Linked DNA regions of Homo sapiens. The protein of the gene in region 2 purifies or fractionates together with the protein of the main gene of each other region. This does not show direct contact. Each region holds a gene or a part of one and is shown on either strand. Other genes may lie near its edges. The genes, in order: DHX36, ZBTB38, IPO7 and RPL26L1.

The links.
Region 1: the proteins of ZBTB38 (region 2) and DHX36 purify together in Homo sapiens (affinity purification with mass spectrometry; 3 studies listed by BioGRID and IntAct, with this or other methods). This does not show direct contact.
Region 3: the proteins of ZBTB38 (region 2) and IPO7 purify together in Homo sapiens (affinity purification with mass spectrometry; 4 studies listed by BioGRID and IntAct, with this or other methods). This does not show direct contact.
Region 4: the proteins of ZBTB38 (region 2) and RPL26L1 purify together in Homo sapiens (affinity purification with mass spectrometry; 3 studies listed by BioGRID and IntAct, with this or other methods). This does not show direct contact.

The regions. Positions count from the first base shown.
Region 1 is NC_000003.12:154,321,488-154,330,017, forward strand, and holds the start of DHX36 (ATP-dependent DNA/RNA helicase DHX36), read right to left. Parts: upstream 3,001-8,530; 5' UTR 2,930-3,000; coding exon 2,687-2,929; intron 1-2,686.
Region 2 is NC_000003.12:141,440,727-141,448,758, reverse strand, and holds part of ZBTB38 (zinc finger and BTB domain-containing protein 38), read right to left. Parts: intron 6,371-8,032; coding exon 2,783-6,370; 3' UTR 1-2,782. UniProt on the Homo sapiens protein: Transcriptional regulator with bimodal DNA-binding specificity. Binds with a higher affinity to methylated CpG dinucleotides in the consensus sequence 5'-CGCG-3' but can also bind to E-box elements (5'-CACGTG-3').
Region 3 is NC_000011.10:9,435,620-9,443,651, forward strand, and holds part of IPO7 (importin-7), read left to right. Parts: intron 1-651; coding exon 652-747; intron 748-2,134; coding exon 2,135-2,355; intron 2,356-2,460; coding exon 2,461-2,666; intron 2,667-4,835; coding exon 4,836-5,042; intron 5,043-6,461; coding exon 6,462-6,578; intron 6,579-8,032. UniProt on the Homo sapiens protein: Functions in nuclear protein import, either by acting as autonomous nuclear transport receptor or as an adapter-like protein in association with the importin-beta subunit KPNB1.
Region 4 is NC_000005.10:172,962,182-172,970,213, reverse strand, and holds the end of RPL26L1 (ribosomal protein uL24-like), read right to left. Parts: intron 1,756-8,032; coding exon 1,615-1,755; intron 802-1,614; coding exon 673-801; 3' UTR 443-672; downstream 1-442.

The DNA.
Region 1 (8,530 bases), about 13 Mb from region 2:
CATATTCTCTAATACCTTAATACTGTATTCTATTTATCGCTCCAAACACACCACAATCTCTGTAGAGCCTATATCTATTTTATTAATTAATACAGTGCTTAAGATACTGTCACAAAAATAATGTCCTCAATAAATATTTGTTGAAAGAACATTTGTTCAAGAATGCATCATTAGAATGCATTCATTTTCAGCCAGGCGCCATGGCTCACGCCTGTAATCCCAGCACTTTGGGAGGCCAGGGCTGGTGGATCACCTGAGGTCAGGAGCTCAAGACCAGCCTGGCCAACATGGCAAAACCCTGTCTCTTCTAAAAATACAAAAATTAGCCAAGTGTGGTGGTGCACACCCGTAATCTCAGCTACTCAGGAAGCAGAGGGTGCAGTGAGCCGAGATCACACCACTGCACTCCAGACTGGGCAACAGAGTGAGACTCCAACTCAAAAAAAAAAAAAAAAAGTCTTCATTTTGAAAACACATGACATGACTTTAAAAGTGAAAGCTACCGAAATTCTGACTGGGAAACAATGATATCAAGCTAAAGGTGGTCAAAGAAGAGCTGGGACGAGCCCATTGAAAAATACTCCTATTTAAACAAGAAAGAAAGGTACATTTTGGACAGGAGAACAGTATGACACTGTAATGAAAAGTAAAAATAAAGTATGCCTAAAAAAACTATAATTATATCAGACTGGAGACATGGGCTCAGAGAAATGTGCACAGCGGTAAACCTGTTACGTTGAAGCCGTATTACCAAGATTTCCAGAGAACATGTCAAGATGCAACTGAAATATATCAGACTGAGACAGAAGTGACATGACTTCCAATCTGAAGTTGTGAATTAGGTAATAAAATGATCTAATTTTTCCTTTTAAAAGATCACCATAGGCGGCTCTGTAAAGCACAGACAATGCAGAGCAAGAATGGAAGCTAGATGACTAGTTAGAAGGCAAGAACAGAAAACAAACAGTGGCTTGATCTATGGTAACTATTCTGGAGGTAAGTGGTTAGATTGGGATATATTAACAAGGCAGAGATTTGCTGAAATGAAGGGGAAGAAGCAAAGATAAATCTCATTTGGCCTTGCCAAGTGAATAAATGGTCGTGTCACCACTAAAAGGAGGATGGGAACGCAAGTAGAAATGAAAAGTTCCATTCATAACATCCACTGCACAACTGGCTATACCCTTCATGTGGAAACAATAATGAACATTTTTTCCTGACTTATTTAACTTTTCATCTGTTTAGGTATTATTTTCTCAGCTAGACTGTAAGCTCTTTGAATACCACATTTCTTCAAGTCCCTGGAGCAATATGCATAAAACCTTGTTTCAAACAGAGCCTTAATAAATAAAAGTTGTAAAGTTACTTAGACGTCCGTATCCTGATTTTCAAGCCAGTATGCCCAACGAAAAAGTTAATTTGGGGCTGTAAAAGAAATGGATTTGTTTTTTAAAGAAAAGTTTAAATTATGAAGATAAATGGATAAGGCCCCCAAAACACCTGAATGAACATGACATGGTTAAAAGAAATAAAAAGAAATGGAACGGTTTAAAAATAGTAGTCTAGGCCTGGCGTGGTGGCTCACGCCTGTAATCCCAGCACTTTGGGAGGCCGAGTTGGGTGGATCACCTGAGGTCAGGAGTTCGAGACCAACCTGGCCAACATGGTGAAACCCCGTCTCTACTAAAAATACAAAAATTAGCCGGAGGTGGTGGCGGACGCCTGTAATCCCAGCTACTCGGGAGGCTGAAGCAGGAGAATCGCTTGAACTTGGGAGGCGGAGGTTGCAGTGAGCTAAGATCGTGCCACTGCACTCCAGCCTGGGCGACAGAGTGAGACCCTGTCTTAAAAAAAAAAAAAGTTGCCTAAATGATGATCTAATTACACTCTATAATACATTTTATAAGGTGCTTTTAAAAAGTCACCAAAGGCCTATACTAAGAAAGTTCCTGCTTAATGATAAAAATTATTTTTTATTAGAATTTTATTTACTAGTCACTCGGAGAACTTTGTTTCCCTTACTACAGATCTTTAAGACACAAATCAACCTGACAATCACCTGAAGAGAGGAGAGTAAGCCAAATCATCTCTGGAGATTCCTTTCATTTTCCTTTTCAAAGAGAATCTGCTCATCAATAGAAATTTCTCCACCCCAACATAAAAAACAAAAACCTAGGTTTGCAGATAATTTTAACACTAATAATAAAAGCTGGACTATTTTTCTGAATGATCCACATCCAAAACAGTGTCTGCCTGCTTTTGTTCCGCGCAAACCTATCTCAAATGTAGAAAGGTCGCTATGTGCTTCTTCACCAGGCAAAGACCTTAAAGTGACAATTATTATTCTAAGGGAAAGGACGGCCAGAGATACGACAACGACACTCCTAATAAAGTTAATTTCGGTTGGAACGTGAACTTAACATTTGCTTTGTCACAGTTCTCAAGTCCTTTAAGCAAAGTATATATTCAGCCTGCATAAATCCTGCCTGTTTTTGGTCAGATGAGCATGGCTAATGTTACGCAGTACACCCGCTACGGGGAGCGCCAGCATAATATATTTGCGCCTCATTTACATTTCACAAAACACGTGCATCACTTAAGAAACAAAACCAAGAAAAAGGGGGCAGCGGGAGAGAGAAGAAAACCTGTGCTGCCTCATCCTCTCCACTACTGAATCCGAGATTACCTCTTGCCTCTCCGCTTCCTTGTTCTTCTGCCCCTGTTTTTTCGCGTACCACATGCCGATTTCGCGGCCTTTCAGGTGCCCGGGATGCCGGCCCCTGCCGCCTCGACCACCCCCTCCGCCGCCGCCGCCTCCTCCGGAGCCTCGGTTACCTCCATGACCCCCTGCTGGCCCCCCTCCATAGCCCCCACCGGAGCTGCGGGGACCCCCATCACGGCCCCAGTTCTGATGGTAGTCATAACTCATTGTCCTGGCAGACTACAACCCGTCAGAACCAGCAACCGCTGGAAATGGCGTCCGGGCCCGGAAGCCACTGTGCGCCCACTTCCGTTTTGCTTCCGTAGCACCGCACAAGAGGGCGGGCCATTTAGCGTCACAAGCAGTGGTTTCTGGTGACGTCACGGGAGGACGACCCCGGTGGTCTGGAGGGTGGCAGGGATCAGGTTCTGTCTGAGCCCCCGAGTTGTTTATCTTTGTACCTCTGGAGCAACAGCCAGCCAAAGGCTCGTAGATTTTCTTTCCCTAGGCCCAGCAAGTGAGCCAATAGCTTTTGGTTTTTACTTTCTTATTCCTGGTAAATCCGCAGTTTTTTTGCACTTAGGTCCTAGGGTAGTAAACGTTGATTGAAACAAAAGAACCCTTGGATCAATTCGCCGTCTTCTAAAGAAAAGTCTCTAAAAAATGAGTTCTTCTAGTCTTGAAAACAGCCTGACAACTATTCAAATATGTAATTTAAAATCCCCTTACCTCCTTGAAAGTGTTGTCACTATTTAGTACGTTTATCCAATAGTGTTAAGATGAGCGTGTCTACCCAAATTCGGTGCAGAGCTCTTAGGCAATGTAAATAAACTACTTTGAAGATTCATGTGTTCATATGAAGCCACATACTGTTTATTAACCAGCACACTGAGTGTTTTGTACAAGCTGTTCTTGAATAATCAAGTAATTGGGCCACACAGGCTTGGATGTACACCAGGAGATATCCAGCTCATGTTACAGTTAACTGATGTAAAGGTGCTGGGAATACTCACTGAACAAAGCAAGTATGGCATGAGCTTTTATTTGCCTACAGTCTTAAGGGAAAGACAAAGGCTATCTTTGTGCAGTGAATTAAGAAAGGGAAATGCTGTATGCCAGGAAGGGGTCTACAATACACCATTGTGGCCTAAAAATTATTTTGAGCAAAGACATTTGAGTTTCTGAAATCTACCTGTCTAAATGCAGAACCACACGGAGGAATTCAAATCAAGCTCCTCCCTGGGAGGGAAACCCAGGAAGACTGACTCTTATCACTGGAGGTTAGAAGCTGGCAACACACTTGAATAGACATTGTCACAAAGCTATCATATCTGGCATCTGTTTTAAGGTGTCATTTATTTTTACTAAAAGTCATTTGTTTTTTCCATACGTGCTGTTTTCCCCTTTCCTTCCCTTTATAAGATGGTAGATAAGTCAGAACTCTACCTCCCTGAATCACCTTTTTCTGTGAACTCTATTATGTATGTGGTTAAGTCTGTCTTTTCTTTTGCTAATCTGTTTTGTCACTTTAAGTCTGGGGCCTGCAAACACTGAATCTAAGAAAGTAGACAAAAAGTATTTCCTCCCTAAGAGCCAAGAGATACTACAGCAAAAGAATTTAATTTTGGAGTTAGGTGAGTTATGCAACAACTTTTGAGATAAGTAGACTTTTGCCAGACTAATGGGCAGAAGAAAAGTATGGCAGGTGAAAGGAACAATGTGTAAAGACAGATAATGATGTGAGACATCGGAGAACTTAAAACAACTACCCTGAATCTTAAAGCCTGATGGGGAAGGCCAAAGAGGTAGATAGGGGTCTGATTATGGAAAACTTATGTGCCACTTAAAGAACAGTGATATGTTTATGCAGAGCAGTGGTTATTTTGACTGCTTCAATTGGAAATAAATAGCGGAGACAAGAGTGGATACAGGGAAACTAGTTAATGTGATGTAGGGGAGGCAAAATGGGATGACAGGGCATTACATGTGGAAAGAATTGGAATCAGGAGACATTAGAAGATAAAATTACTTAAATTTGATGATTCATTGAATGTGGAGAATTGGAAGGGTTAAACGACTCCAAGTTTAAGATTTGAATTATTAACCCATGGGGAGGCACATTGTATCCTGAGATGAGAAACACAGGACAAGGAACATTTTGGGGGTGAGGGGCAGGGCAAGTTAATGTGTTTTATTTTTACATGTGGACTTTGAGGAACTTATGAAACATACAAATGGAGTATCTAGAAAGCAGGCTGTAAGAGTTAAAAGCACAGAGGCCAGGTGTGGTGGCTCACACCTGTGATCCCAGTACTTTGGGAGGCCAAGGTGGGCAGATAACTTGAGGCCAGGAGTTTGAGACCAGCCTGGCCAACATGGTGAAACCGTCTCTACTAAAAATACAAAAATTAGCTGTGCATGGTGGTGCATGCCTGTAATCCCAGCTACTCAGGAGGCTGAGGCAGGAGAATCACTTGAACCCAGGAGATGGAGGTTGCAGTGAGCCAAGATTGTCCCATTGCACTCCAGCCTGGGCAACAGAGCTAGACTCCATCAAAAAAAAAAAAGAAAAAAGAAAAGTTGAAACGTTAAAAGTACAAAGAGAGTAGACTGAAATTATATGTTTTGGGAGTCCTTGGCACATGTGATTAAGGCCGTAGGAATGAATAGTTTCTATAAAAGCATCCCAATTGGGCACTCCTGATGTGAAAAATATGTCAACTGTCTAAGAGATGAGATTGAGTAGGCATACTGAAGATGATAGGGGCAAAGTGGGAAGAAAATGGTGAGAGTGTTATGGGCTAAATCTTTGTGTTCATGCAAAATTCATGATGAAGCCCTAACTCCCAATATGGCTGTAGAAGAGGCCTCTAAAAAATGTAATTAAAGCAAAATGAGGTCATAAAGGTGAGATCCTGATAATAGGTTTAGTGCCCTTTAAAAAGAGACATCAGAGAGCTTGTTCCTCCCTCTCAGACGAAAGGCCATGTGAGGACAAAACAGCAGCCATCCATGCTCCAGGAATAGCTCTGTAAACCAAAAATACATTTTTTTTTTTTGAGATGGAGTCTCACTCTGTTACCCAGGATGGAGTGCAGTGGCACAGTCATGGCTCACTGCAGCCCCAACATCCCTGGTTCAAGTGATCCTCCCACCTTAGCCCCCTAAAGTAGCTGGGACCATAGACGCGTACTGCCGCACCCAGCTAATTAAAAAAAAAGATTGGTAGAGATGGGGTCTTCCTATTTTGGCTGGTCTGGCCTTGAACTCCTGGGTGTAAGCAATCCTCCTGCCTCGGCCTCCCAAAGTGCTGGGATTACATGTGTGAGCCACCGCACATTGCCCCAAAATAAAATTGGAAGCCCTCCCAACCAACTGAATGGACCCGTCCTCTAAGCCAAAAGCATCCTAAAGTAAACCTGACTTGGTCAGGCCATGATGGGAATGGGAGGTTGGACATGCCTCATTATACCTTCCTTCCTTTGGAATCAGGTACAGCTGACCAGTATTAACATTGAAGCAGAGACCTTAAGACTGACAGAACAGACTCTTTGTAGCAATATGATGTCAACATAGTAGTAGGCCCTGAAAGAAAGCATTTTACCCCAAAATATATTTATTTGACATATTTTGAAATGGCCCTTCAAAGCTGTCTCTCATGGGGAAAATCTACATTCTGTAGAGAACCTCCTTCCCCCTTTCCATTTCTTCTCCATGATCCAGAAGAGGATTAACTAAGAGTCTGGAACCTTTTTAAGTTGAATAAGAAATATTTACAATCTATTCTTTCTGAAGCCTGCAACCTTGGAGGTCTTATCAGCATAATAAGAACCTTGGTCTTCACAACTCCTTATCTTAACCCAGACAGTCCCTTCTGTTGTTTCCAGGTGTTTAGATAAACTCTTTCAATCAATCAGGAAATCTTTGAATTCACCTGTGACCTGGAAAACTCCCTCCTCCTTTGAGTTGTCCCACCTTTCCAGATGGAATCAATGTGCATCTTACATGTATTGATTGATGTTTTATGTCTCCCTAAAATATATAGAACAAAGCTGTACCCTGACCACCTTGGATACATGTTCTCAGTATCTCCTGGGACTGTGTCATGGGCCATGGACATTAGCATCTGGCACAGAATAAATCTCTTCAAATGTTTTAGAGTTTGACTCTTCGCTGACAGCTCTCATTAGGAACTGGATTAGCTGGCACCTTGATCTTGGACTTCCTAGTTTCCAGACTTTAAGAAACACATTTCTGTTGTTTTAGCTGCCCAGGCTGTGGCGTTTTGTTATGACAACACAAACAGACTAATATGGAGAGTCAGAGGGGAAGAGAATTAGTGTTTATTTGTCACTTAGCATTTGCTAGGTATTAGACTAAGTGGCAGGCATTTGTGGCAGAATAATGGCCCCAAAGATGTCCTTGTCTTTTTTTTTTTTTTTTTTTTTTGAGGTGGGCTCTCACTCTGTTGCACAGGATGGAGTGCAGTTGCATGACCATGGCTCATTACAGCCTCGACCTCCCAGACTCAAGCAATCCTCTCACCTCAGCTTTCCAAGTAGCTAGGACTGCAGGTGTACACCACCATGCCTGGCTATTTTTTTTATTATTATTATCTGTAGAGATGAGGTATTGCTATGTTGCCCAGGCTGGTCTTGAACTTCTGGGATCAAGTGATCCTCCCACCTCAACCTCCCAAAGTGCTGAGATTACAGGTGTGAGCAACTGTGCCTGGCTGAGATGTTCATGGAAACTCCCTGGAAACTGTGAATATATTACATGGCCAGGGCAAAGTAAGGTTGCTAATCAGCCGATGTGATAATTAATTTTATATGTCAACTTAATTAGGCTAAGGGATGCTCAGAGAGCCAGTAAAACATTATTTCTAGGTAGGTCTGTGAGGGTGTTTCTGGAAGGGATTAGCATTTGAATTCATAGACTGACTAAAGAAGATCGTCTTCATCAATGTAAGTGTGCTTCATCCAATCCATTAAGGGCCCAAGTAGAATGAAAAGGTGGAAGGCTAATTTACTCTCTCCTCTTGAGCTATGACATCCATCTCCTGTTCTTGGACATCAGCACTGTTGGTTCTCAAGCCTTTAGGCTTGGATTAGAACTACACCACCAGCTTTCCTAGGTCTCCAGCTTATAGAAAGTATATTGTGGGACTTCTCAGTCTCCATAATCATGTGATCCAATCTCTCATGATATAGCTCAGTTTCTGTGTATCTATATCTGTCCTATTAGTTTTGTTTCTCTGGGAAACCTGATGAATGCAGCTGACTTTAAAACAGGAAGATATCCTGAATTATCTGGGTGAGCCCTATGTAATCATAAGGGTCCTTAAAAGTGAAAGAGGGTGGTAGAACAGAAGGTCATAGTGATGTGACATAAGGATTTGACTAGCTGTTGCTGGCCTTGAAGATGGAGGAAGGGGTCACAAGCAAAAGAATTCAGGCAGCCTCTAGAAACTGGAAAGAAAATAGATTCTCCCCCAGGGCTTCCAGAAAGAAATACAACCATACTGATCCTTTTGCAGTTCATGAGCATGATGATTGGGTATTCGTGCACATGTGTGAGATGTGCCACCCTCGAACCTTGTTATGACATCGGCACATTGCTCATCTAACAGGAAGAAAAATAAATAAATAAAAAGAAATACAACCATATTGACCCCTTGATTTTAGCCCAGTGAAGACTCTTGTCAAAACATTATGCTACAGAACTGTAAGATAGTAAATTTGTGTTAGTTAAGACTGTAGTAATTTCTTATGGCTACACTAGAAAAGTAATACAATTCCTTATCTCATTTCACACAATCCTCATGAC
Region 2 (8,032 bases):
CAGATGAAATAGCTGCACAAAAGAAATAACATGAAAACATTTAAAAAGAGACTTAATGTAGGAATAAGCTATTTTAATCAAGCAAAAACAAATTTATATCCATTATTTCTAAAAATAAAATTAGACTTTTCCAATCCTTAACATCTGCATTTAATAATATCTTCTAACCAAAATACAGATGCTAAAACAGCAAGTTACATTATATCTTGTACAGCATACAGTATGTTCACTGTTTACACTTACTTTAATTCTAGTTGGTCATGTACTCAATGCATACTTAAACATCACTCAATAAAATTTTCACAATTAACAAAAAAATGTGACAAGGCTGTCTTAAAACGGCTCTGCTATAAATTGTATAGAATATACAGAATTACAAAGTCAAGTATTTTTTTATCAAAATATACACCCCTCCCTGAAACTAACACAAGCTATCAACATTTTAAATGAATACAATTATAGAAAATATTTGCAAAATTATTTTTTCATGTATAAATATTCTGCCATATTTACTTTGGTCTAGAATTATCAGCATACAAGTCCACTTAAAAAATATCCACATATAAGGGCTGGGAGAGAGACATCACTACAGGTAATTTTATATTTGGGGTTAACTCAAATCAAAATGACTAGAATATACAGTAAATGTCTTTGATTAATATTATTAACTGATAAAACAAATTAGTGGATCATAGGATTGCTTATTCAATATTCTAATTATCAATTCAAAAATGATTTTCGTAAGCCCTTTGTGACTATCTCTTTAATAAAACCCAAATGAATAGTGTAGGGTGTACATATATACAATGTATAAAATAAAGTTGAATTTGCTTGCATTTTCCCATTTTTCTCTACTTATATAATACTGTATGTAAGTGAAAGTAGATGAACAAAAGATAAATGCAGATACAATAGTGGGGTTACTTAACAGCAAGGTACTACAGTATTAAAAGGTCAACTTTAATCATGTCCTTTCCTGGGCGTTTAAATGCTTTCTTACCCACCCAAATCCATACTAAGTCTTCTTCATGGAGACATCACACTTGTAGACAGAAACCGGAGTCCTTTGAGCTACTTCTTCACAATGATAACCTTCCAATCTTCGATAACCTTGGGTTTCCATCTGTCAAATCCAATGAACATGAATGACTGCAGGTCACGCTGAAACTGCATTCCGGATTCTGTTCACACTGGTGATCAAAGGGTAGAAATGTTTTCTCTCTCCCTTCTATTCTGGCAGTTTGAAAAAGAATCATGAGTTCCGGCTTTCCAGGAACCTAGTCCACATGATAGAATATGCTGTAGGGCAATTAGATTTGAGGGTAGTGTTGATGGTGTGGGTCAAAGAACATAAAAAAAAAACTTCAGTGGGTTTTTAGCAAGGGGTCTAGATGTCTGCAAATATGAAGACAGAGCATCTGGCTTTGTAGATATATTTCTGAGTCTCATAAGTAAAGGATAGAACCATGTCACTCCACATCCTACCTTCCCACCCCCTAAAAACAAAGCTACTGTTTTAGGCAAGGAAGGCCATCACTTCTTCTTGCCCACTCAAGTCATTAATGGGTGGGGTGGAGGGTGGGGGTTCCTTTGTCCTTTTGCTTTATACTAGTCTGTACTTGTGGGCTGCATAATCTCCAACAAGGCTAGTAATTGTAGGGATTAGGCAGTCACTTTCAAGTGCCTGGGAATTCACTACTGCAGTGTACCTTGCACTAAATCTCTTGGACAGTCCTTCAGTGGAATGGGAGATGGCAGGTTCCACTTGAGCCCTTAAGTCTGTCTGGAATAGACCCCCACATCCATGGCCTTGTGGTGGTTGGAAGACTGCAGAGAGTTTCAGAACAATGTGACCCTCTTTCATTCTCTGAGATGAGGCCATTGCAAAGTAATATGCAGCACAGGTAATCACAGGTAAATTCTGGGAGGGTGTTCCCCCATAGATAAGGCATGACCTATGTTTTCTGTGAATTGAGTAGACCAGTTCTAAGAACAGCTCAGCCATAACTTCAAGGGAACAGCATTCCATCTAAAAGCATTCACATGCTCTTAAATCATATTCAAAATGCTTTCTATTGATTTTTACATCAGTCCTCATTATTTGCAGATCTATTGCTCCTCATAATTCTCTACAGGGGATATGGACAGTTAAAAGTTATAGTGATTTATATATGTATTTTACAAGGTTTGTGTTGCAGAAAAGTAGTTCTACATAATGTATGAATGTCCTACTTTAGGTTACTCATTATGCACATAATTTCAGTTATATTGTTTAAGTATTTCATGTGTATCCATTAATTTAAACAAATTTTAATAGTGCAGAAGCCAGATGGGAATAAAGACCGTCACACAGCTTATTACCACGTAACATATTTACGAAGATGCCATCTTCAGGATATCTGACCCTTATTTTCTCCAGTGACTAAAGACAGTTCAGCAGCCAGTTCTTATTAGCAATTATTAGAAAGTTTTAAACTAGGCTAAAATTAAACTCCTTTTTTCACTGGTAGAAATACCACAGCTAAGAATTTTATTAACTTTCACAAGAAACTTGGGATATTGGAGGAGTCAGCTATTTTGTTTTTGTGCACTTTGCATAAAGTTAATGCTAAAACCCAAAGTAGATATTAGGATCCTTTTTCTGGAATTTTCACAAATGAGTTTTTTTTTTTTTTAATTTCACTCCTTCATGACTGTCACATGGACAAAATGAAACTAAACTTAAATCATAACTAAAAAAACCACCAACTATATTTTTGAAGATTTTTCTAATTCTTGCCACTCAAAGGACAACATTTTCCACACCGGTTTGTATGTTATCCTTTTGGTCATTGTCTTCTGAACCAATGAAATGTTGATTCTCCAAGGGATTTGAGTTTTCGTGGCACACGTCACCTATTTTCTCCTGCTGACTTGGGCTTTTGAATAAGTGTTTCTTTTGGTGCATTCCAAGGGCAGCAGCTGTTTTGCAAATTTTGGGGCACTGGAAGCAGGCATAGCCCTTCCCATTATGCTCCCGAATATGCCTCTGCTCGTGATTCCTTTTGGTGGAGAGATACAAAAATCTCTGAAAGCAGAACTGACAGTGGTAACGCTTTTCTCCAGTATGGATTCTTTCATGGATTTTGAGGGTCTCATTCAAGGTGAATGCCTTGTTGCAATACTGACAGACGAACTCCTTCAAGCCCAGGTGGATGCGTTCATGTTTCTGTAAGTTTCCTTGCACCGAAAAGCACCGTCCGCAGGTCTTGCACTGGTATGGCTTCTCCCCGGTGTGACATCTCATGTGCATTTTGAGTGTGGAAGGGCTCTGGAACTGCTTGGCGCAGAGCTCGCAGGCATATGGCCGAGAAGTAAGATGTCGGTGGGGCCTTCCTTGGTTTCCAGCCCCCACTGCTTTGTCTCCATCACAGAGTTCACACTGCAGCTTGGGCATCTCTTTAGTTTCTTCTTCCTCAAAGGGTTTATCCTGAGGAGCCTTCCCCACGGCGCAATCCAGTTCTGCTGGGTATTTACATTTATGGCTCGGGCTCCTGTTTCCGTGCTCCTTCCTCCAGTTGACTTTCCTCATTTTTTTCAACTGTCTGGATTTCTTTTTGGGTTTGTAGTTGTAGTAAGGGCGCCACGGTTTGTCAGTGGAATCCTGGTCACTTGCGTCATCGAACACTTCACTCATCTCCATGCACTCGGATTGGCAAAGCCCGAGTGGGCTGTCTCCACTGGGTTCTGGGTCATTCCCCTGTGGCAAAGGCTCCTCCTGCATCTGATACTTGGGTCTTCTCCCTCTTTTATAAAACAATTTAGATCCTAGAATGTGCCTTTTCACAATGGCTTCGTTTCCAATTTTCACTGTTATTTGGCAAAGGGGTGCAACATTACTATTTGTGGAGGTTCCCGGCAGAGCAGGTTTTGCAATGTAGGTTTCAATTTTGCTGGTTTCTTCAGCAATATTTGTGGTTTTGCTCAGTGATCCTCCAGGATCAGCAACATAGTTTGACTCCTCCGGTATTTCTCCCCTGGTATGTGATGTAGTTTTCTTTTTCTCCTTAATGCTTTTGGGTCTGCTTGCAAACCTACCCACTTTATCTGGCTCGGGCTTACTGTCATCTTTCAGGGACTGACTGACAGCTGGGTCTGAAAAGGCTCTGTGGTTGCTGCTGGTCATGGCAGCAATGGCATTGCTGTGCATGATCACCGATGAAAACTGGCTGCTGTGTACAATGACCGAGGGTGCAGAGCCACTGTAGCTGATCACAGAGGCGGCATTCTCACTGCTATTACTCAAAGATAAAACAGGTACATCCCCTGCCCGGAGGTCAGAACTGACAGCATTTTCAGTGGAAGAAACTGACACCTCAGTTGAATAAAAGTTATTGTCAAGATCCATTTTCAATGCCTCCTCTCCCCATTTGGTACCCTCTGCATTTTGTACATTGGCAGAAGTGGGTATGTCCTGACATGCAGATGTTTCCAATGGGATGGCTGGACTGTTGGTCAGGGTGTTTACAGTATCTTGGAAATTCAGCGTTGGTAATTCAGAGCTGTGTGGATTCTGAACAACATAGGTACCAGGTGCAGACTCATTCATTTGACTGTTTTCTCGTGCATTTTCATAGGAAGAATTTCGGTAGCTCTTATAAGGGGCTCTCTTGCATTTCATAGGCAGTAGCCTATAAAGTTTATACGGATAGACACTAGGCTTCAAGCCTCCATTTGCTGTTTTTTTACTGATGGAAAGTCTATGATCGATGGCATGGAAAGACTTCTGATGATTTTTGAGTATATAGTAGGTCATGAAAGTTTCAAGACAGAAAATGCACTGATATCGTCTTTCTCCCGTATGCCAAATTTCATGCCTTGTCCTGTACTCAGCCAATGCAAATACTTTGTTGCAGTAATGGCAAGGATATGTTCTTCTCCAGGAGTGAACATTTGCATGTCTTCGGAGGCTAGATAAGGTCACATAACTACGTTTGCACACAACGCAACTGTAGAGCATTTGCCCATTAACAAATTTAACCATGTGGTCCGTGTCTGGCAAAGTACTTCCGGTACTGGAAAATTCACCAATCCTATTTTCAGATAATAAAGGTTCTGGACCTGTGAATGAACCTCCATTTTGTCCAATGGTAGGATAGTTTTCTAAAAAGCGTTGGTTTCCTCCAGGAATGGGCATGTGGCTTGACCTCATGCAGATCTGTTCATGCCGATCCAACCTGTTCAGGGTGGTGAATTGTTTGTTGCAATACTTGCACACTAAAGGCTCCTGGGTTGGCTTGTGAAGCTGCATGTGGGCACTGAGCAGAGTGCTGCTGTCAAAGGCTTTGGAACAGCAGCTACAATTGTACACCAGAGGTGGAACCTCTGCGGCTGGCGGCCCGGGAACATCAGAAGATTGATTTTCATCTTCCCTGGAAAAATGGACATCTCCTTCATTGTTTGGAGATTTTGAACGAGTGAGAACAGCAGCTGGTTGTGGACTTCTTTCTTGATTAACCTCTAAGTTGGATACTGGAGGGGGTGGTATATTTTCTGTGGCTGAATCCGAATCCTGTGGTATGGAGAATGTCTTTGGCTTCCGGCATGTTTTCGGTTTCGCTGCAAGGGCTTCACAATTTTCTTTCCCTGTGTTACCAGGTGAACTGCCATCATGTTCACGTACAGGCTGACTTCTGTAAGCTTCAGCTACGGAAGAAACAGCGTATGAGTGCTCGGCAAGTGTGCGGACAGGCTCTGCCTCGTGGCAGACGTCCGTCCTCTCCAGGCAAAGGCTAGCTGTTCTCATGGAGTCGGAGACCTTTTTGAAACTTGCCCTCAAGTCCAGCGGGGAAAACATGTTATTACTATTTTCTGTTTCGATGATGGAAAATGCATTTGTGATCCTTGGCCCATTAGTGATGGCTGGTTCTTCATGCCTTTTTTCATTTTTTTCTTCTTTAACCACTCCCTTTTCAGTAATACAGAATACATAGGGACCCGGGGAATTTGAGAAGTTGCGATCAGTAAGGTCTTCCAAGAACGATATTCCCAGCTTTTTTCCTGCAGCTGCGAGATCAGTGACTGTTTCCTGTCTCTTGACAACGACTGTGGAACTGTAGATATAATTAAGTATTTCAGTAAACACTTCAGCTTTGAGATCGTCCAGCTCCAGGACGTGGCTGGAAATACAGATTGTATGGCTCCAAAAGATATTTTTAAAATACAGGCTTGAAGCTGCCAGAACATTGCTATGGGCTTTAAATTTGGTATCTTCCACAATGATAGTGACATCGCATAAAATGCCCCGAATGCGCTGCTCATTTAAGATGGAGAGTACCGTGTCACTGTGAAAGTCGTCCTTGAGGTCCCTGGAAAGGGACATGACTGTCATCTGAAACAAGAGGAGAGAAATGGTCAGATAATCTTCCACAGGTGGCTTCTTTATCTCTAGACTATTTTCCACTTCTGTGAAAAACTGTTCTTTTGTATGAAACTTCAGGTTTTTATCTCATTCTGTTGATGCTCCCGAGACTCAAGAGTCAACATTAGAAGCTAAATCTTTTTCTTGCCCCAGCCTGTTTCTCATACCATTGCTAATAGTTGTTATCATTGGAAATCCTCCCAGAACTCCTTCCCCTTTTCTCCAAAGTTGGAGCTATATATACATGTCCAAATTTGGGAGGGGAGGAGGTTTTTTTTTTTTTTCTGAAATGTTAAGGGTCTCATCATCATTCAAGGCTGCTGCTTTGAACTACTAGAGCTGGGCAATGCCATGGTCCTGCCAGAAGCTTCCTGCCTATTTTCAAAGAGAAATCTGATGATCCAGTCACAACCATGAAGCAGGAAAATGATTTTTTTTTTTTTGAGACAAAGTCTCGCTCTGTTGCCCAGGCTGGAGTGCAGTGGTGTGGTCTCCGCTCACTGCAACCTCCACTTCCCCGGCTCAAGCGATTCTCTCACCTCAGCTTCCTGAATAGCTGGGACCACAGGTGAGAGCCACCACGCCCGGCTAATTTTTGTATTGTTGGTAGAGACAGGGTTTCGCTATGTTGCCCAGGCTATTTTTTTAAATGAATTTTCCTTAAGTGGTACCTATATGCAAAGCTATTGCCCACTCAGAGAAGAAGCAAGAACTGAAGGAGCCCTTCCTAATTTGTGGCTCATAAGGGTCAATCTCTAGAGTTGCAGGGTGTGTAACCAAGTCTGACCACCAGGGGCACCCCCGCCTCTCTGCGCTATTGGCCCTATGGTGACTCATCAGGTTCCTTTTCTAGTTTCCCCTTTAGTAGAGACAAAGTAGACTAGGGTTTTCAAAAAGAACTGTCAGGTACTGAAGGCAACTAAAAAGGAGACAAAATGTAAAACCAGGAAAGGACATTTCTAAGTCCTTTGACAAGAACGGACAAGAATGAATCTAGTCATAGATTCCTGAATTAGCACAACTTCAAGGCACAGTGGCTCTTGTTCTGGTCTGAGGATCCCATCTCCATTCTTCTCTGTATTTTCTATATTCTCTATATAAGTCCTATTCCATGAGTCTGGTGTGCTAAAGCTTACTAACTGATATTATAGTGAGGGGCAGTGAAAAGTAGCAGCTTTCATACTTCCCACAGTAAGAGATACACAGTACATAGTGACCTAAGACACAAATGAAATTAACACTCACCCTTACTAGGTGTGATGCATTCTGTTCTGCTCTAGTATTTTTCTTTTCTTTCTTTTTCTTTTCTTTTTTTTTTTTTTTTTTGAGATTGAGTCTCGCTCTGTCACCAGGCTGGAGTGCAATGGCATGATCTCAGCTCACTGCAACTTCCGGCTCCAGGGTTCAAGCGACTCTCCTGCCTCAGCCTCCCGAGTAGCTGGGACTACAGGTGCATGCCACCACGCCCAGCTAATTTTTGTATTTTTAGTAGAGACGGGGTTTCACCATGTTGGCCAGGATGGTCTCGATCTCTTGACCTCGTGATCTGCCCGCCTCAGCCTCCCAAAGTGCTGGGATTACAGGTGTGAGCCACTGCACCCAGCCTTTTCTTTTAAAGAATGCTTACAGCAA
Region 3 (8,032 bases), on a different chromosome or scaffold from region 2:
TTTTTTACTGCCAATTATATTATTTATATTAATATTCTGGGAGCAGAGATATACCTATACTATCTACATTTCTATTCCTGAACACTTATTCATATGTTTATACTCATCTAGTTTTCACTAGCCTTCAAGTCCATGTTCATTTCTTGTCTGGAGTTTATAGGGCAACATTTGCCCTCAACAGGCTGCCTCTTCCTCCCTCCGTTCCTCTCTCCCCTACTGGTTTTTTGTGTTATTGTTGTTTTCTTTTTTAAAGAGAAAAGGGTTTCCTAGAAATGTCAACATCTTAGCTTTTTGTAGTTCTTTACGTGAGAAAGGTTAGGTGTTTTAGCTACCACCTGTGTATGAGAAGTTAGTGGTTGTCAACTTGCTGTAATCCAGAATGGCACTACAGGATAGGTGCTTTGATCACAAAGACCAAGATGCCAGAGGGCTAGACTATGAAAGATAGGAGGCAGACAGCTCCAGATCCTCACAGCTATCCAGATCCTTTAGTCTTTCATCTGTGCAATGAACATTGCAGTTATTCATATTAATTAGGGTACCTCAAGTAATACTCAGAGCCTGTACACAGGGTAGGAAATTGTTTCCTTGATTTAGATACCTGATTTAAAGGATAAAGCCTTACTGCAATTTATATTCTGTTTTGATCAGGTTCTTACAGGAGTTGCAGGAGAAGATGCAGAGTGTCATGCAGCAAAATTGTTAGAGGTCATCATTCTGCAGTGCAAAGGGCGTGGCATTGACCAGGTCAGTGAAGCTAATAATGATTTGTAGTTCAGAGGGGTAATCTTTTCCTTCCACTTTCTTTCTTCATTTTTTGGCATTTGTTGCATATTCTGTATGTTTTTGTTTATTGAGACATCTAGACAACTAATATTTTTAGTTCAAAATGTAACTAATATATAATAATGATCATATGTTTAATGTACAGGAATTGGACTAAGTTTTATGGCTACTTTGTTATCATGAAAGGTAAACTTTTGCTTAAGATTTTTTGGATAGCTTTAGTAATTAAATATCCATGGTCAGTTTTTTTGTTTGTTTGTTTTGTTTTGTTTGTTTTTTGTTTTTTGTTTTTTTTGAGTGAGAGTCTTGCTCTGTTGCCCAGACTGGAGTGCAGTGGCACATTCTCTGCTGACTGCAACCAGATTCAAGCAGTTCTCCTGCCTCAGCCTCCCAAGTAGCTGGGATTACAGGTATACACCACCACAACCGCCTGATTTTATATATATATATATATATATATATATTTTTTTTTTTTTTTTTTTTTTTTTTTTTTTTTTTGAGACGCTGTCTCGCCCTGTCGCCTAGGCTGGAGTGCAGTCGCGCAATCTCAGCTCACTGCAACCTCTGCCTCCCAGGTGCAAGCAGTTCTCTGCCTCTGCCTCCTGAGTAGATGGGATTATAGGTGCCTGCCACCACACCTGGCTAATTTTTTATATTTTTAGTAGAGAAGGAGTTTCGCCATTTTGGCCAGGCTGGTCTCAAACTCCTGACCTCAAGTGTTCTGCCCACCTCAGACTCCCAAAAGTGCTGGGATCGCAGGCATGAGCCACGTCACCCGGCCCACGGTCAATTTTAATAGGAACTTGTGAAGCCATGATTGATATCATCGTGAGCTTTTATTTATTTTTTATTTATTTCATATATTTTTTTGAGACAGAGTCTCGCTCTGTCGCTCAGGCTGGAGTGCAGTGGCGCGATCTCAGCTCACTGCCTCTGCCTCCCAGGTTCACGCCATTCTCCTTCCTCAGCCTCCCAAGTAGCTGGGACTACAGGCACCCGCCACCACGCCTGGCTAATTTTTTGTATTTTTAGTAGAGACGGGGTTTCACTGTGTTAGCCAGGATGGTCTTGATCTCCTGACCTCGTGATCCGCCTGCCTCAGCCTCCCAAAGTGCTGGGATTACAGGCGTGAGCCACCACTCCCGGCCCGTCGTGAGCTTTTAATAGCTCCATGAAGACTACTAGACTTTCTCTAAAATTAGATTTCCCAGTGCAGTGCCTCAGCAGTAAATATTGGTCATCTAATGCTACAATAGGGTTAATTGAGGCAACAAAGAAGTTAATATTTTTAGAATGTTTGCATGCTATTAATTATAGTCTTAGAATATCTTGCTATCTTTTTTTGTAGTGCATTCCCTTATTCGTGGAAGCAGCCTTAGAAAGACTGACAAGAGAGGTTAAGACAAGTGAACTTCGAACTATGTGTCTGCAAGTTGCAATTGCAGCTTTGTATTATAATCCACACCTACTACTCAATACCTTAGAAAATCTTCGCTTCCCTAATAATGTTGAACCAGTTACAAATCATTTTATTACACAGTGGCTTAATGATGTTGACTGTTTCTTGGGGTAAGTGATGTATTGCAATTTTACTACATTTGCTTTGGGAGGAACTCTGCTTATTTAAGAAAAGAAAACAGTTTTTTTTTTTTTTTTTTTTTTTTTTTTTTTTAGGCTTCATGACAGAAAGATGTGTGTTCTCGGACTCTGTGCTCTTATTGATATGGAACAGATACCCCAAGTTTTAAATCAGGTTTCTGGACAGATTTTGCCGGCTTTTATCCTTTTATTTAACGGATTGAAAAGAGCATATGCCTGCCATGCAGAACATGAGAATGACAGTGATGATGATGATGAAGCTGAAGATGATGATGAAACCGGTAAGGGATTTTCAATGGAAGAAGACAAAACTTATCTACTTAGAAATATTACCGCACTGGGCCGGGCGCAGTGGCTCAGGCCTGTAATCCCAGCACTTTGGGAGGCTGAGGCAGGTGGATCACACGGTCAGGAGTTCGAGACCAGCCTGGCCAGTATGGTGAAACCCCACCTCTACTAAAAATACAAAAATTAGCTGGGTGTAGTGGTGGGCACTTGTAGTCCCAGCTACTTGGGAGGCTGAGGCAGGAGAATCGCTTGAACCCATGAGGCGGAGGTTGCAGTGAGCCAAGATTGCATCACTGCACTCCAGCCTGGGTAACAGAACGAGACTCCATCTCAGATTAAAAAAAAATATATATATATATCACTAGCCCTTCTCCCAAATAAATGTGGGATCATACCCAAATGCTTTCATTCACAGAAAAGACTTCCTTTCTTCTCACTAGAGTGATGTAATCAGGAACTTCAGCTGTATTACCAACATGTAGAACAGTTCAAACCATTATAGTATGCAACCAACAAAGATTTGTTTATTTTACACATTCTCAGCACTGTAGATACAAAGATGAATGAGATGTCATGCAGTTCTTCAAAAGTTTTCTATCCGACTGTGGGAAAGTATTACAAAGCCAAATAATTATGTATATAATAATAGAGTTGACACGAAGTGCTGAGTCCACTTAAGAGCGAGAGATTATAGTTCCCTTTTTTATATGGTGGCATGAGCCTATAGTCCCAGCTACTTGGAAGTCTGAGGTATCAGATTCGCTTGAGCCCAGGAGTTTGATTCCAGCCTGGGTAACATAGTGAAACCCCAGTTTTTTGTTTTTTGGCTTTTTTTCCTTTGAGACGGAGTTTTGCTCCTGTTGCCCAGGCTGGAGTGCAACAGCGCGATCTTGGCTCACTGCAACATCTGCCTCCCGGGTTCAAGCAATTCTCCTGCCTCAGCCCCCCAGATAGCTGGGATTATAGGCACGTGCCACCATGCCCAGCTTATTTTTGTATTTTTAGTAGAGACAGGATTTCACCATGTTGGCCAGGCTGGTCTGGAACTCCTGACCTCAGATGATCCACCCTCCTGGGCCTCCCAAAGTGCTGGGATTACAGGCGTGAGCCACTGCACTGAGCCGTGAAACCCCATTTCTTTAAAAAAAGTTGTGGGGATTACATGAGGGAATCCTTGACGCTTAAATAGTGCTTGGCAGATGGCACTGAATTAACAGTATTAACAAAGGTACACATATCATTATAGTTACTATTACAAGATTTATGGGGGTTTTTTTTGTTTGTTTTTTTTTGTTGTTGTTGTTGAGACGGAATCTCGTTCTGTCGCCAAGCTGGAGTGCAATGGCAATCTTGGCTCACTGCAACCTCCGACTCCCGGGTTCAAGCGATTCTCCTGCCTCAGCCTCCCAAGTAGCTGGGATTACAGGCGTGTGCCACCACACCGGCTAATTTTTGTATTTTTAGTAGAGATGGGGTTTCACCGTGTTGGCCAGGGTGGTCTCAATCTCCTGACCTCATGATCTGCCTGCCTTGGCCTCCTAAAGTGTTGGGATTACAGGCGTGAGCCACCGCGCCCGGCGAATTATGGGGTTTTCATTTTATTTTTAAGCTTCTAAAGATTTATGGTCTTAATGTTGACTAAATTTATTGGAGACATCCATCCTATCATCTATTAATTCTAAAACCTAAGCATACTTGCACTATAACATTATGTTAATTAAATGTTGATAAATACATTTTATCTATAAGACTGTACACTATCAGTGTATAAATTGATAAAATATTAAGAGAAATTATTATAAGGGTTTCAACATAAGATAGCTATTGCTATTTTTGTCTTTTATCATTTACTAACTTAGCCAGCCTTTTAAAAAAAATCTTACAAAAGGTTTGGTGGGTGTAACGGTAGTGTGTTCATACTGCGCAGTTCTTTTTCAGATGTCTAGTATTAAGAACACATTAAATCAAGGTTGGTTTTCTTGGACTCCTATGGAAATTTTCATTTCTATTCATTATTGAACATGTATTTAAACACCAATTCCTGGAGCTCTCTCTTGTCACTTGTGACTTGTAATTTACTGACAGTGATTGAGATGATTGTCAATTTGTTGAGTAACAAAATATGTCATTGTTATAAAAGTACTTATATTATGACTTGGCAGAGGAACTGGGGAGTGATGAAGATGATATTGATGAAGATGGGCAAGAATATTTGGAGATTCTGGCTAAGCAGGCTGGTGAAGATGGAGATGATGAAGATTGGGAAGAAGATGATGCTGAAGAGACTGCTCTGGAAGGCTATTCCACAATCATTGATGATGAAGATAACCCTGTTGATGAGTATCAGATATTTAAAGCTATCTTTCAAAGTAAGTCAACTTGTTACATGTGGATCCATTTCATTGAACAAATCTGTTGTAGTTTCTGCCTGCCCTTTAAAGGAAGAGTTTGGAGGATATCAAACCCAGACTAGAAAAGGCTGGTTAGGCAAAGTAACCAAAATTATTTCTAAGGTTGCCATAGTTTCTGAGTATTCTTTATTCATCCTGTTATTTTACATTTAGATTGTAATTTTGGAAGATTATAGGAAAATAATGTAGTTCAAAAAAGTATACAGTGACAGTGCCTCTTTGCTACTTCTGATTCCCAATCTCCCAGCTTTCCTCAGAAGTAACCACTCTTACGTGTATACCTGTTTGTTGTATGTTATTATTTGTGTGTATCCTTTTTTCCTGCCCAAACCTATACTTAACGTGTTAAGAGTATATTAGCATTTATGGCATATGATCTTATAATTCTTTTTTTCCTATATTCTGTGATGTGTTAACTAATTTAATCTATTATTACTAAATTAGCACTTTCGGCATAATCAAATTTTTAGCTTTAAACAACTAATTTAACCTTGAGATTTTTGAATTATATATGCCTAGGATTCTGGAGCCACGTACACTGTTAAATATTCCAAGAAAAGTCCACTGTTCCTATAATGTGTCATTGTATGTGGCTCCAGAATACTAGGTTCTGGTTGGTTTTTACCATCATTTACTTGGATTTCAACAAGGTATAGCATTTGTGTTTTACCATCCACGTTAAGAAATTAAATTTCCCCTGTATTTGAAACATCTTTTCCTCTCAGAGTTAATTGCTGTTATATATCATTTCCTATGCACTGGGAACTGATGAATATATTTTTTGATAGAATACATTATCTGATAACCAAGGATTTGAGTCTTCTAAGCCCATGACAAGGCAGTTTTGATGCAAGGTTACAGAAGCACAAAGTGCTGGTTTCTGAGCTACATGGCAGCAAGAACTGATTGAGGTGCCAAACTTGTTGTTTCTGTGCCTTGTACTTTGTAGACAGACACCACATGTCAGTCCCTAAAGAATGGTTCCTAACACGGGGCCCATGTACCACAGTAGCCTTGATGATTTTCAAGTTGCTTTAGCTCTGAATCTTTTAAGATGGTTGGGTTAGCTTTATTCCTGAAGTCTCCCTGGTTTGTTACTTACTATATAAGAACTAGTTAGGCTGAGTCCTTATTTGCTGGAGAGATGGATCGTAAGAATGATTAGAGTTTTTGGAGCCATAAAGATAAGCTGTAGTTAATTTTTATTCCTATATCTGTTGTTTCACAAATATGGTAATTTTAAAAATTATTGGGAGAATATAAAATAGATCAGAATTTCAGTATTGCCTCGGGATGGAGTAGGAGGAATAGTGTAGAACGGAGCTACCAAGCCTCTCTTATTCATGTTGTTTTTCCCTTGTTTTTATTTTTTGATAGCTATTCAAAATCGTAATCCTGTGTGGTATCAGGCACTGACTCACGGTCTTAATGAAGAACAAAGAAAACAGTTACAGGACATAGCAACTCTGGCTGATCAAAGAAGAGCAGCCCATGGTATGTTAATTAACTGTAACTCCTCTTTAATTAGTGACTTTTATAGGTTTAAAATTTTATATCGTTTAATTTTATATCATTAAATTTTATCATTTAAGATGATATAAAAGGTATAGTTGTTGCAGGTGATAGGAATTAACTCTAATCTGAGGGATTTAATTCAAGATAACTTAATTTTGGCTTTGGCTACAGTTGGCTTTTTTCGTTTTTTTTTGTTTGTTTGTTTGTTTGTTTGAGATGGCGTCTTGCTCTGTCGCCCAGGCTGTAGTGCAGTGATGCGATGTCAGCTCACTGCAAGCTCTACCTCCCGGGTTCATGCCATTCTCCTGCCTCAGCCTCCCAAGTAGCTGGGACTACAGGCACCTGCCACTACACCTGGCTAATTTTTTGTATTTTTAGTAGAGACAGGGTTTCACTGTGTTAGCCAGGATGGTATCAATCTCCTGACCTCATGACCCGCCCGCCTCGGCCTCCCAAACTGCTGAGATTACAGGCGTGAGCCACCACACCCAGCCCCAGTTTGTTTATTTTTAAGTATAATTGGGCCAGGTGTGGTGGCTCATGCCTGTAATTCCAGCACTTTGGGAGGCCACGGTGGGTGGATTGCCTGAGCTCGGGAGTTTGAGACCAGCCTGGGCAACATGACCAAACTCTGTCTCTACTAAAATACAAAAAACTAGCCAGGCATGGTGGCACATGCCTATATTCCCAGCTACTCAGGAGGCTGAGGCAGGAAAATTGCTTGAACCTAGGAGGCGGAGGTTGCAGTGAGTTGAGATTGCACTACTGTTCTCCATCCTGGGCAACAGAACGAGACTCCATCTCCAAAAAAACAGAAACAAAAAAAACTAGAGAACACAGCCAGACATGGTGGCGCATGCTTGTAATCCCAGCTACTTGGGAGGCTGGGGCAGGCAAGTCCTTGAACCCAGGAGGCAGAGGTTGCAGTGAGCCGACATCACGCCATTGCACTGCAGCCTGGGTGACAAGAGCAAAAGTCTGTCTCAAAAAAACAAAAAAAAGTACAGTTGAAGACTACTTTCAGTTTGCAATAACTTTAGCTCATGGTGATGGTTAGATAGTAGAAAGTTCTGTTAAAAATGTAAACACCTAAGCCGGGCGCAGTGGCTCACACCTGTAATCCCAGCACTTTGGGAGGCTGAGGCGGGTGGATCACCTGAGGTTTAGAGTTCGAGACCAGCCTGACCAACGTGGAGAAACCCCATCTCTACTGCAAATACAAAATTAGCCAGGCGTGGTAGGCATGCCTGTAATCCCAGCTACTCGGGAGGCTGAGGCAGGAGAATTGCTTGAACCCGGGAGGTGGAGGTTGCGGTGAGCCGAGGTCGCGCCATTGCACTCCAGCCTGGGCAACAAGAGCGAAACTCCGTCTCAAAAAAAAAAAAAAAAAATTTAAACACTTGGCCAGGCGTGGTGGCTCATGCCTGTAATCC
Region 4 (8,032 bases), on a different chromosome or scaffold from region 2:
ATGAAAATGGCAATTGCAAAGTCAAAACTTTGGGAAGATAAGCCTGGTCAGGGAGCTGCACATGATTTGGTTTAGTTGGCACTTGGAGAGAAAGCTGGGGAAGCCCAAGTCAGGAGGCCAGAGAGCAATCTGTCAGGCGTGAGATGTGACAGTGCACATTACAACTGCTACTGAGTGGGGCAAATCCCTGTGTCAAGGACCAGAGCATGGCAGCTCACGCCTGTAATCCCAACACTTTGAGAGGCCAAGGCAGGAGGATCATTTGAGCCTAGGAGTTCAGGACCAGCCTGGGCAAGATGATGAGGCCTGTCTATATAAGACTAGAGCCCTGCCCTTTCTACTTCATCAGCACAAGAGTCCAGGCAAGAGGAGGGCCATTTAACCCTACCCCTGCGATTTTGCTGTTCCACACATTAAATAGGAAAAGACTGGCAAAGGGGAATTGATAGTAAGTGGAATTTATTTATAAAACAATGCAAATACTATGTGGAATTAGGAAGCATTTCCCATTTTTATTCATAAAATTATTACTTAAAATTGCAAAAGTAGATTTACAGAGGCACAGGTAACAAAACAGGAAATGAAATGTTCCAGACATTCCGAAAAGTTCGAAAGAAACACACCCTAGCCTCAAAATCTCCGGTTAAACCGTGGTTGCACAACAGGTTCTATTTATTCCTGCATTTTCTCAATAAGTTCTTCTTTATATTTGCCTTTCTCTTTTCCAACTTGTCGAGACTTGGCTTTGCGTTCAAGAATTTTTTTCCGATCCTTGTCCAGTTTTAGCCTGGTGATAACCACCTGTTGGGAGTGAGAAAACAGGTCTTTATTTCTGCATCCCCACCAGCTATTGAGCAATATAGACATCATAAGTTAAGTAAGACCTCAGCCATTCAGCTTTTAAGGAACTGAAACTCTGGAAGGAAAACAGACCCTGTAACACAATACAAAATAGGAACACAAAGGAAAAATAGCATGTTCCACTAGGTAGGCATGAGGGCTACAGGAAGATATATTCTCTCTTATTCCTCTGAATATTATGTGGTAGGGGAAGTGATGCCTAGAACACTTGGAAGCCTCTTGCAACCAGCTTAAAGACACAGCCATCGGCCGGCCATGATGGCTCACACCTGTAATCCCAACACTTTGGAAAGCCGAGGCGGGCGGATCACGAGGTCAGGAGATCGAGACCATCCTGGCCAACATGGTGAAACCCCATCTCTATTAAAAATATAAAAATTAGCTGGGCGTGGTGGTGTGTGCCTGTAGTCCCAGCTACTTGGGAGGCTGAGGCAGGAGAATTGCTTGAACCCAGGAGGTGGAGGTTGCAGTGAGCCGAGATCGCACCACAGCACTCCAGCCTGGTGACAGAGCGAGCATCCGTCTCAAAAAAAAAAAAAAAAAAAAAAAGACACAGCCATCACCAAGAAAGGCAAAACAGAAAAGAGAAGAGAAGAAAAATCTGGATCCTTGATGATATCACAAAGCTACTGAATCAATCAAGTCCACCTGGCCTGCCTCAGCCAACTGTGCAGGGAGTACCAAAACACCAATAACTTTGAACAGTATTGACACACTCCATGGCTGCTACTGCCACTCAGTCCTTGACCATACCTTGCTTGGGTGAATGCCCACGTGGACAGTTGTGCCGTTGGCCTTCTCACGCTGCACCCGCTCGATGTAGATGACATATTTCTTTCTGTACACCTGGACTACCTTGCCAATTTGCTGACCTTTGTAGTGTCCTCGAACTACCTAAGAGAAAATACAAAAGAGAATCCCCCTCCATTTGTAGTGCATGATCATAAAGAGGAAGCTAACCATCAGGAACACATGGGCTAAACATATAACTTTGTCAAAAGCAGCTTAATCCTGGCAGTCAAAAATTAGCTACTTTTCTGATATAAATCTGTGTTGTGCTATGGTTGGGTGGAGATTTTTTACCTGGATCCCACAGAAATGTGCGATATGAGCTTTAGAGGAAAAAGGAGAATACAAAACTACATATAGAATATACTCTGAACTATATATATATACATATATATGTCAAGTATCCCTTATTCGAAATGCTTGAGACCAGAAGTGTTTTGGATTTAGGGTTTTTGGGATTTTGGAATATCTGCATTACTAGCTAAGCACCCCAAATCTGAAAATCTGAAATCCCAAAAGCTCCAAAGAACACTTCCTTTGACCATCACGTTGACAAAGTCTCAGATTTTGGAGCATTCTGAATTTGAGATACTCAAACTATATGAGTGTATGTGTGTGTGTATATATATAATATATATTACATATGTGCGTATATGTATTTATATGTCATATATACATACACGTATCATATACATACACATATGTACTTATATGTAACATACATATATGTCATACATACATATATGTACTTATATGTCATATATACATATATGTGTATACATACGTATATATGTGTATATATGTATATATACACACACATTTCATATATATAGCATGACACAGTGGGATAAAATATATATATAAATATTGGTAACAGCTGCCATTAGGCAGGAAGCAGGATTACAGATGACTGATTTTTAGATTTATATTCTTCTAAATTTCAACATTTCTACATTTAATACAAATATTTTAAAGTCAGAAAAAAAATTTTAAATCTCACAGACTGTTTTACTGTACTAAAAATCTACTCTATTCAAAAACCAACTAGATTAGGGTTTCCTTGAAAGCAAGAGCTTATTTATTTATTTATTTATTTTTGACACGGAGTCTCGCTCTGTTCCCCCAGGCTGGAGGGCACTGGCATGATCTTGGCTCACTGCAACCTCCACCTCCCAGGTTCAAGTGATTCTCCTGCCTCAGCCTCCCAAGTAGCTGGGATTATAGGCACGCACCAGCAGGCCTGGCTAATTTTTGTATTTTTAGTAGAGACCAGGTTTCGCCATATTGGCCAGGCTGGTCTCGAACTCCTGACCTCAAGTGATCTGCCTGCCTCGGCCTCCCAAAGTGCTGGGATTACAGGTGTGAGCCACCATGCCCAGCCACAAGAGCTTATTAAACACCATGCATGGGGGCCGGGCACGGTGGTTCACACCTGTAATCCCAGCACTTTGGGAGGCCAAAGCCGGTGGATCATGAGGTCAAGAGATCGAGACCATCCAGGCCAACATGGTGAAACCCTGTCTCTACTAAAAATACAAAAATTAGCTGGGCGTGGTGGTGGGCGCCTGTAGACCCAGCTACTCGGGGGGCTGAGGCAGGAGAATCACTTGAACCTGGAAGGCGGAGGTTGCAGTGAGCTGAGATGGTGCCACTGCACTCCAGGCTGGCGACAGAGCGAGACACCGCCTCAAAAAAAAAAAACCACCAGGTACGATGTGACTCTGATTAATAAGCATAGAGGAGATACCACATATAAAGAACTAGAGAACCCCAATACTCCTAAAATGTCTACGTATAGCTTGTTTGGCTTATTTTCCAAGGCGATTTTTAGGTTGAAGAGGACAATCATATCTCAGTGAAAAATCTACCACAGACTACATGACCAGAGACTCTCAGGACACACCTGGAAGAAGTCTTGTTAATACCATCAAGACTGAAGAAATACACACATACACACTTTTTTTAAGAGACAGGGTTTCACTATGCTGCCCAGGCTGGTCTCAAACACCTGAGCTCAAGAGATCCACCCACCTTGGCCTTCCAAAGTGCTGGGATTACATGTGTGAGCCACTGCACCTGGCCAAGACTGAAGAAAGATCTTAGGCCGGGCATGGTGGCTCACAGCTGTAATCCTGGTACTTTAGGAAGCTCAGGCAGGTGGACTGCTTGAGTCCAGGAGTTGGAGACCAGCCGAGGCAACATAGCAAGACCCCGTCTCTACAAAAAAAAAAAAAAAAAAAAAAAAAAAAATAGTTAGCCAGACATGGTGGCATGCGCCTATGATCCCAGCTACTCGGGAGGCTGAGGTGGGAGGATCACTTGAACCCAGGAGGTTGAGTCTGCAGCAACCTGTTTTTGCACCACTGTACTCCAGCCTGGGTGACAGAGTGAGATCCTGTCTCAAAATAAAATAAAATAAAAAATTAATTTAAAAAATTTTTAAAAAGAGAAGTGGACAACCTCTGGACATAGTGAAGAGGAAGACAGGAGACAGGATAAGACTAAGTCGGCTGGTCGACTAGACTGGAGAGGTGAGGATGAAGAGGGAAGGATGATACTCAGAGTCTGGCTTGGGCAACCAGGTGGATGGCAATGCCATTGCCAGATGCAGAGATCATAGGGGAAGCCCCGTATTTTAGGAGGAAATAGTTTAGTTTGGAACATGCTAAATTTGAAGCATCTGGGGACATTCTAACAGAGAATTCAGACACAGCTGGAATGCCAACTGGGCCAGCAATAGAGACGTGGGAGTCATCCACAGAGAGGCAATTAGGAGCTTCATGTTGCTCAAGGAGTGATGGTATGAGAAAAGGGCAGAATGTACACATGTGAGAAAAGCCAGCATTTTGGAAGAGCTTGTGAGAGATTAATGTGGCCAGAGCGAATGGGAAATCATGCAAGTGTGGTGTTACAGCAGCCAAGAGAATGTCAAATTCTGTGGGACTGTCAAGAACACAGAGGATAAGGTATTTAACAGATCTGACAACAAGGTCATCAACAGTGGCTGTGGCTGGAATGCCTTCACTGAGTGCTGGGATGGAGGCCATTAACAGTAAAGTGATGAGTGTACCAGGTGAGAAGGTGAAGGTGAGAAAAGACAGTCCAAAGGAGCTTGGCTCTGAAGATGAGAAGGGGATAGATGTTTGAGGGGGATGGAAAGCTAAGGGAACTTTCCTTTATTTTTTATTTTTAAAGAAGGGAAAACATGATTGTGTTTAAATGCTGATGGAAGGAACAAGTATGGAGGAAGACGGTAAAAGAAACTACAGAGAAAGAAGATAAGGGACCAAAAAAGCTCCAAGAGAAGAATGGAGCAGCACCCAGTGGCAGATGGATTAGGCTTAGGCAGAAACAGGGATATTTCTTTCTTTTTTTTTTGAGACAGAGACTTGCTGTGTTACCCATGCTGGAGTGCAGTGGCGTGATCTTGGCTCACCACAACCTCCGCCTTCTGGGTTCAAGTGATATCTCATTGCCTCAGCCTCCCTTGTAGCTGGGATTACAGGCATGTGCCATCACGCCCAGCTAATCTTTATATTTTTAGTGCAGACGGAATTTCGCCATGTTGGCCAGGCTGGTCTCGAACTCCTGGCCTCAAGCGATCCACCTGTCTTGGCCTCTCAGAGTGTTGAGATTACAGGCGTGAGCCACTGCACCAGGCCTGGGATATTTCTTTCATTGTAACAGAAGGGAAAGAAAATAAGAGGGGTGGAACTACAGGTAAACGTGTAGGTGTGGAGCCACGATTTCTGAAAGTTCCTGGCTGATAACTTCAATTTTCTCTGTAAAGTAGGAGGAACCATCACCTACTCAGAGAAAGAGGAAGGTAAGTGAGATTCAGAAGATCCCGTGAGAGGAGGCAATATTAACAAACCCAATCAGGGCTATTTTATTCTCCTGGTGGAGAAGTGTTCAGCCAGCATGGCCTTTGGCTGAAACAATTCATACCTCTTAGGCATTCAAAAAATGGCAACAGGCAGCCGGGCGTGGTGGCTCACGCCTGTAATCCCAGCACTTGGGGAGGCTGAGGCGGGTGGATCACCTGAGGTCAGGAGTTCGAGACCAGACTGACCAACATGGTAAAACCCCGTCTCTATTAAAAATATGAAAATTAGCCAGGCATGGTGGTGTGTGCCTGTAATCTCAGCTACTTGGGAGGCTGAGGGAGGAGAATGGCTTGAACCCGGGAGGCAGAGGTTGCAGTGAGCCGAGATTGTGCCACTGCACTCCAGCCTGGGCAACAAGAGTGAAACTCTGTCTCAAAAAAAAAAAAAAAAAAAAAGGCAACAGGCCAGACACTGTGGCTCATGCCTGTAATCCCAGCACTTTGGGAGGCCAAGGCAGAAGGATTGCTTGAAGCCAGGAGTTTGAGACCAGCCTGGGCAGCAAAGCAATACCTATTTTTAAATAAATAAATAAATAAATAAATGTCTCTAATTTAAAATATATATATATTTAACAGCAGCTCCTTCTCCCTCTTTGCCCTCCTTCTCTGTCTCACCTTCTACATCTTACCTACTCAAAAAATTTTTTTCATTCATTCAACAAATATTGACTGACCCTTCTCCTCTCTAAGTGTCAGGCTCTGCACTGAGGTCAGACAACAAACAAGATGAACTCTCTGGTTTCATGGAGCTTAGCCTGATGGCCAGTAAGCAGTTAATGAGTACATAGACAAATACATGACCACTAACTGGAATAAGTCACATAGGAACTTACTGGGATGATTAAAAATGGTCTTTTTAATGGTCTAATCATAATTAGGGTAATGGCTATTTGGTTTTACATTTGCCAAAACTGACCTGTGCATTTTACTGTGTGTAAATTATGCCTCAGTTAAAAATAAAATGATTTCAAATTGTGCTTACTGCTACGAAGAAAAAATAAAGAATGCTAGGCTATAATATTGGTTAAAGGATCTGGGAAGGCTTCTCTGAGGAACGGACATTTAAGGTAGGACCCGAAGAATGAGGAGTTACCTATGTAAAGGAGAGAAGGAAGAGCACTCCAGGCAGAGAGAACATTCCAGCGGGAGAAAAGATCAAGGTGTATTTAAAGACCCCAGAAGCCCAGTGTGGTTAAAGTGTAGAGCACATGGGGGTTAGGAGGAGATGAGGATGGAGAAGTAGACCAGGATTGGCCCATAGAGGGCCTTGCAGTCAATGATTTTAGATTTTTTTTTTTTTTTTTGAGACCGAGTTTTACTCTGTTGCCCAGGCTGGAGTGCAGTGGCGCAATCTTGGCTCACTGCAACCTCTACCTCCTAGGTTAAAGCGATTCCCCTGCCTCAGCCTCCCGAGTACTTGGGATTACAGGTGTGTGCCACCACACCTAATTTTTGTATTTCTAGTAGAGGTGGGGTTTCACCATGTTGGCCAGGCTGGTCTCGAACTCCTGACCTCAGGTGATCCACCCACCTCAGCCTCCCAAAGTGTCGGGATTACAGGCGTGAGCCACCGCGCCTGGCCATGATTTTAGATTTTATAAGCACATCAGGCACCATTGGTAAGCACCTGGCTAACTCCTCATTTCTCAGGTCTTCTCTTAAATGTATTAGTTCCTCAGAGAAGCCTTCCCAGGTCCTTTAATCAATATCATAGCATCCTTTATATTTTCTTCATAGCAATGAACACAATTTGAAATCATTTTATTTTTAACTGAGGCATCATTTACATACAGTAAAATGTACAGGTCAGTTTTGGCAGATATAAAACTGCCAAAGGATTTTTTTTTTTTTTTTTTTTTTTTGAGACAGAGCCTCACTCTGTCACCCAGGCTGGAGTGCAGTGGCATGATCTTGGCTCATTGGAAGCTCCCCCTCCCGGGTTCACGCCATTCTCCTGCCTCAGCCTCCCAAGTAGTTGGGACTACAGGCGCCCACCACCACGCTCAGCTAATTTTTTATATTTTTAGTAGAGATGGGTTTCACCGTGTTAGCCAGGATGGTCTCAATCTCCTGACCTCATGATCTGCCTGCCACAGCCTCCCAAAGTGCTGGGATTACAGGCGTGAGCCACTGTGCCTGGCCGTTTTTTGTTGTTGTTGTTGTTGTTTTTGAGACAGAGTCTCACTCTGTCACCCAGGCTGGAGTGCAATGGCACAATCTCGGTTCATTGCAACCTCCGCCTCCCGGGTTCAAGCGATTGTCATGCTTCAGCCTCCCGAGTAGCTGGGATTACAGGTGTGCACCACCACGCCTGGCTAATTTTTTGTATTTTTAGTAGAGATGGAGTTTCACCATGTTTCCCAGGCTGGTCTCAAACTCCTGAGCTCAGGGGATCCACCCGCCTGGGCCTCCCAAACTGCTAGGATTACAGGCGTGAGCCATCATGCCCAGCCTGCCAAAGGTTTTAAATAGGACCTGATTTGCAAATAATACCAC